Linked DNA regions of Homo sapiens: region 1 is linked to region 2. The links come from fine-mapping of genetic effects on gene expression. A gene starts in region 2. The other region holds a variant in brackets. All regions are shown on one strand. Distances are from middle to middle. Region 1 overlaps MYO1B-AS1 (MYO1B antisense RNA 1). Region 2 holds the start of STAT4 (signal transducer and activator of transcription 4).

What was found.
Region 1: its variant is fine-mapped to the expression of STAT4 in subcutaneous fat (GTEx, PIP above 0.99). The same link has a PIP of 0.9 or more in breast and sigmoid colon.

Annotation. Positions count from the first base shown.
Region 1 is chr2:191,242,505-191,245,527 of GRCh38, reverse strand. MYO1B-AS1 (MYO1B antisense RNA 1) reads left to right here. Exons shown (of 4, transcript NR_186085.1): 2 at 1,455-1,908. It overlaps MYO1B (myosin IB), which reads right to left and starts at 124. Exons shown (of 31, transcript NM_001130158.3): 1 at 1-124. RefSeq lists a silencer at 1-203 and an enhancer at 1-238. The variant G/A (reference allele first, on the strand shown) is at 1,646.
Region 2 is chr2:191,149,967-191,152,718 of GRCh38, reverse strand. It overlaps STAT4 (signal transducer and activator of transcription 4), which reads left to right and starts at 1,725. Exons shown (of 24, transcript NM_003151.4): 1 at 1,725-1,772. RefSeq lists enhancers at 1,306-1,385, 1,516-1,565 and a silencer at 2,036-2,085.

The DNA.
Region 1 (3,023 bases), 93 kb before region 2:
TCCCGCCGCGGCTGTTCTGCCAAGGCTGTCCCGCGGCTGCCGGCCGACTGCGCGCCGCGCGCTCTGGTACTGCCTCCACGCGCCGCGGTTGAGGCTCCCGTGCGCACCCAGCTGCGGAGTGCTCAGCGGCGGCGGGAGGAGCCCGGCCACTCCCCTCTCGCCCGCTGGCGGAGGGGCCGGCCGAGGGGCGGGGGCGGCGACCTCGCTGCCTGGGATTCGCCCCTCGGCGCGCGGGCAGGAACGGGAGCCACCGCCTCCGAGCCGACTCACCTCTGTCCGCCCGGTGCCGGCTTCACAGCGCCCCCCGGTGAGCGTCGCGGCGGCCTCCGCGCCTTGCGGGTTTGCGGCCCGACCCTCCGCACCCGGGGCGAGCCTGGATGGGACGAGGCTTGAGGGAAGGAGGGGCGATCGTCGCGGCCCCCACGGAAGGCAGTCTTTCTACCTTTTTTGCTTCCAGACTCACTGACATAAAATGAGAAATACAACATTTGACAACTCGAAGCCAGCCTGGGGTCACATTCCGGCAAACAGTGGGAGTAAGTCTCAATTTTTCCTCCTCCCCAAGATGAAAATTTTTGGATGCCGAGAATATCAGAAAATATTAGTTTCACAGAAAAAGAAAAAAATTATACTGAGTGGTGTGGTGTGTCTTCATTTACAAGACTTTTAGTATCTTTTAAATTACTTAATCTCACATTGTGGGAAATAGACACTGGCCAATTCTTTGTGTTATAAATACATGAGAGGTAGTTTAAAAGAAATTTCAAATACCCATACGTATTTGAATAGAGTGTATTAACAGGTCCTGAGTAATGATCAGTGATGGGGTATATTATACAGGCATGTAGGGGCCAGAGAATCAGGACACCCCCCCTACACACACACACACACCTTCTCACTCAAGCCCTATTGCCTCATTGGAGAATTTAGAACAATCCTCTTGACCCAGGTCCTGGTTTCTTCATCCTCGCACAGGGAAGGGTGCGCATTCAAACTTACTCACTGGGTGAGATGAGGATTACTTGGCTGAGGTGTTAAAAGCACTGTAGACACAGTAATTATTACTCATGGTTCTAACTACTTTATCCTATAATGAAATAAATTGCCATAAATGGGCCAGGTTTAAATGGACTGACCTGTATCTGGAAACTGTCACTAAAGTGAGGTGAACCAAAGAATTCAGACCATATATAGTAACTGTTCCCACTGGCATAAGAACCACAGGCGCTGGGATTTGTTAAATGCCACTAGTAGAGTTTGGAAAGGTGGGACCTTCACAGACTATATCTGCTGGGAACTGTCTCATCATTGATGTCACCATCAGCATCACTTCAGATGTACAAGTGGTGTGATAATGGGCGAAACTAACACATACTGGGTACCAGGGACTGTTCTTTGTTTAATCCTCACAAAAAGCTCTGAGGTAAGTTTCTCTCATTATCCTTGTTTTACAGACCAGCAAAGCCAAGGACAGAGAGGTCTTCAGGGAATACATGGCTATGGTGGTTTGAAGACTCCCATTAGAGAGTGGATATTAATTGCCCTCCTTTTGAATATGGTCTGGACTTAGTGATTTGATTGTAACAAATAGAATACAGCAGATGTGATGCTATGTGACTTCCAAACCTAGGTCATAAAAGGAGAT[G/A]AAGTTTTCACCTGGCTCTCCCTTGGGACACTCACCCTTGGAACCCAGCTGCCATATTGTGAGGAAGCTCAAGCCACAGGGAAGGCCATGTGTAGGTGTTTGGGCTGATGGTGCCAGCTGAGGACCTGGTCTACTGCCAGTACAACTTATATCAAGCATGTGAGTTGGCGAGCTTTTGAAAGAACTCCAGCCACAGTCACTGACCACGCTGCCTGAGAGACCTAGAGAGAAAACCTAGCTGAGCCAAATCAGGCCCCGGAAACGTAAGTGATAATAATAAAAGATTGTCATCTGGGTGGTTGTTACATAGCAATAGACACCTAGAACAGTGACAGAGCTGGAATTTGAACCCAGATAGTCTGACTCTATAGTCTTCACTATCAAGCACACTACCTCAGACCTTGATAACCTAGCATAATGAAAACCCTGGAGATCCCAGCCTTCACAATAGGCAACATATGAACCTGCTACCTGGTGACGTGTGTTAGACTCACTTCTCCATTTTGCTTGTCTGAGTTTAGGTTCCCAAGTGACTGCTTATAGCAGTTTGGCAGTTCATGGAACTTCTGACCTCTACTGTCCAGTTCAGCTTTTCAAAAATAGCAGAAATGCAGATGGCAGGTTCATGAATATAAGATGTATACAAATTGAAGAGTGGGGGAATTCTATAAACTTTTGATCTTGGAAGGTGGCCAGATTTTAGAAAAAGTAGGTTTGAGACAACTATGTGCTGAGTAGGTCTATCAAAATAGCTAGCTACTAGAAGTAAAGTTTTGAAACTCCTGACTCAAGAAAGGGATAGGACACAGTTATGTCAGAACAGTTCGGCCTCTAGAAGGACCTCGCATAGTGAGGACAATTAAGACTTTCTCCATGATTTTAGCAAGTTCAAAAAAGAAAATAATAGAAACTGTAGAACTTATCCTAATAAACACTAAGAAAATGAACCAAGTTATTAGCCAAAAATATTTCTAGAGAAAAATCATGCTTCTCTTTTAAAAATACTGTTTACCTAGTTTTCATAAATCTCAAAACCCAAGTTTCTGAGGACATACAGGTTTTAAAACACTTTTACCTTCCTGGCCATTTTTTTCAAAAACCAATCAATCAACAACTTTTGAAATTATAAAAAGCAGATTAAAGTTATTCCCACAATTGTCAAGAATAGATAATAGGCTGGGCGCAGTGGCTCACACCTGTAATCCCAGCACTTTGGGAGGCTGTGGCAGGCGGATCATGACGTCAGGAGTTCGAGACCAGCCTGGCCAATATGGTGAAATCCCATCTCTACTAAAAATACAAAAATTAGCCAGGCGTGGTGGCACGCTCCTGTAGTCCCAGCTACTCAGGAGGCTGAGGCAGAAGAATCACTTGAACC
Region 2 (2,752 bases):
TGGACAGGAAGTATGAAGAATTTGGAGCAGGGAAACATTGCTGTGGGTTCAGGTCATCGGGAAGTCTTCACTGAGAACTATAGGATTTCACTAAGTAGGTAGGCTCAGGGAGGAATATCCAGTTGAAGAAAGCCTCGGTAGTGAAATATGAGGTTAATCTGGGCAGCTGAGGTGACTGCTTGGGTCACATCATGGGCTCTTATAGGGGAGAAAAGTTTCCTGGATAGGTTGGGACCAAACTGTACAGAACTTAAACTGCCAAGAATTTGGATTTTTTTCCTATAGGCAGTGACAGCTTCTCCAGAAGAAAATCAGACTTTGCTTAGTAGCTTATGGAATAGCCTGAAATTGGCACTTTCTTATGTAGGGTCAGAGCAGCATAAGCTCCTGGAAACTGCCTGCTCAACAAGCAGTGGGGACCAGGCCTACCTAACCAGGAAATTTACAGTGATATGGAAAGTGTGACTTTGGATTGATTGACCTATTTGGGGGTGGGTGGTAAGTTTAAGCACATGATAATGTCACCTGGGAGAGAAGAATCCAGAGGGTGTACCTGTGTGAAACCCGTCAGGGAAGAGGGAGGCAGGCCTTTCACCTTGGTATATTGCTCTAAGCATGTGTATAACCAAATTGAGTGACACTTTCTACCTTTCTTTCAGTCTGTCTGTCTGTCTTTATTTTTGTCTTTGTTTTACTATTTTTACTTTCTTAAACATTTTTATTGATTTTTTAATATACGGTGGGATTTTACTGTGTTGCCTGGGCTGGTCTCAAACTCCTGGGCTCAAGGAGTCCTTCCACTTCAGCCTCCCAAAGTGCTAGGATTACAGGTGTGAGCCACACGCCTGGACTTCTCTTTATTTTATTGAACCCCTACTGTGAATCAAGGGGTTAAGAGCTAACTACAAGGAGATGAAATGAAAAGACCACTGAAGTGGGAAGGGAAACACCTGGGCTATTATCGGGCTCCGTGGCTAACTTATTGAGTCCTCTTGGTCACCTCACTGGGTCTCTTCAGATATGAAAGAGGATTTAGCATTAGATGGGACCAAGACTTCCTCCAACTCTGTGATTCTAGAACAGGCTGATGTCACAAAGGGAGAAGAACGCACCGTAGCAACCAGGGGCAAGGCTACTCAAGGAGAGTAGGAGGAGGCTAGGTCAGGAAGGGCAAGCACTGGTGGCCTACCCAGGACTTGGCCCAACCCTCTGGGTCAGGTCACCCTCGTCGGAGTGAGCGGACCCCGCTGGAATTGGAGCCCAGTAAGGTCTATGAGTTTGGTGTTTTGATCCTGGCTACCCATCCCTTCCATCCCAGGGGTGGTTCACCAGGCTGAGTGGAGCCTTATACTAGGGAGAGAGGAAGCTGAAGAACTGGGCTCCAGGTAAGTAACTCTGCAGAGGATCTCAGATTGTCTAAGGAAACCACTGAAGAAAATGTATGCCCCGCCCCTCCCCTTTTTCCTGGCACTGCTGAGCCACCTGCAGTTGCGAGAGCCGCTGGGAGGGATAAGAGGGAAGAGGACGCCCGGTGAAGGGGCTCCAGCCTGGCAGTTTCTGCGTGTTAGCATTTCTAGAATAGAGTGGGTGGGAACTGACCCAAGTAAAGTCCCAGAGACTCGAACACTGACGCACAGGAAAGCCTCAAGTGGGAGGAGAAATGCAAATCCCCTACTGATGATGGCGTCAGCGGCTTTCTCCTAGGGACTGTGAGGGGCGCTTCTGACTTTGGACTTGAGCACTGCCTGGGACCTGTGCTGAGAGAGCGCTAGGTAAGTGGCCAGACCACACCTTCTGGCTGCCTCTTGTAAGGAGGACATGCTTATTATGCAGGATACTCTGAAGCTTTGCTTTCCCTTGGCGTTTTGACAATTGCTTCATTTTAACCTTCCTGAGGAGGCTTATTATAGAAGGAAGCGCCCGACTCCACGACCCACAGATGCGCCCTGGCACGGGTTCTCCGCGGAAACCGCTCCGCAGGCCCGCGCCACGGTGCCCGGGCGAATCTCCCTGCGGGGGCCAGGGGAGCTGCGGCGGCTGCGGAGGTGTGTCCTCGCGGAGGCTGAAAGTGAGCCCCTCTTCACTTTCTTAGCCAGCTTCTCTAGAGCTGTGATGTCTGACTTTAGATTAGCGTACCTGGATTTCAGAAAAAAGCTTGCAGCTACGGCAGCCGGTGACTGTGGCTTTGATGGGCGCGAGTGACATTTTAGGGCAGGTCATCTCCTTTTGCAAGCTACAGGCCACAGAGCCAAAGCGGCACCACCAGCTCACAGACGGTGGGACAAAATGCCCCTTTAGTGGGATCTTCTAGGAAATGCACGCAAAAAGGACAGACAGGCACTGAGTTTTCAGAAGCAACGTCACAGTTTTCATGAGAAAGAAGTAGCCCCTAGAGAGTGAAAGCAAAGAAACCTGCTGAAGGATGTCTAAAGGCGTTCCCAGAGGCTGCAATAGAAAATGTCCTAGGACTATGTATTCCTTCTTCTTCCTTTTTTCAGCTTTGAATTCAGCTCTCCGAAAGACTCAGATCTTAGTAGTGATTTTTTTCGGTGTTTATTTTTATTTTTTTTAATTTTCCTTTTATTTTCATTTGACACACAATTGTAAATATTTATGGAATATACAGTGATATTTCAATAAATATGAACAATGTGTTATGATCAAAGGATATTCAGCATATCCATCACCTCAAACATTTATCATTACTTTGTGTTGTGAACATTCAAAATCCTCTTAGCTTTTTGAAAATATA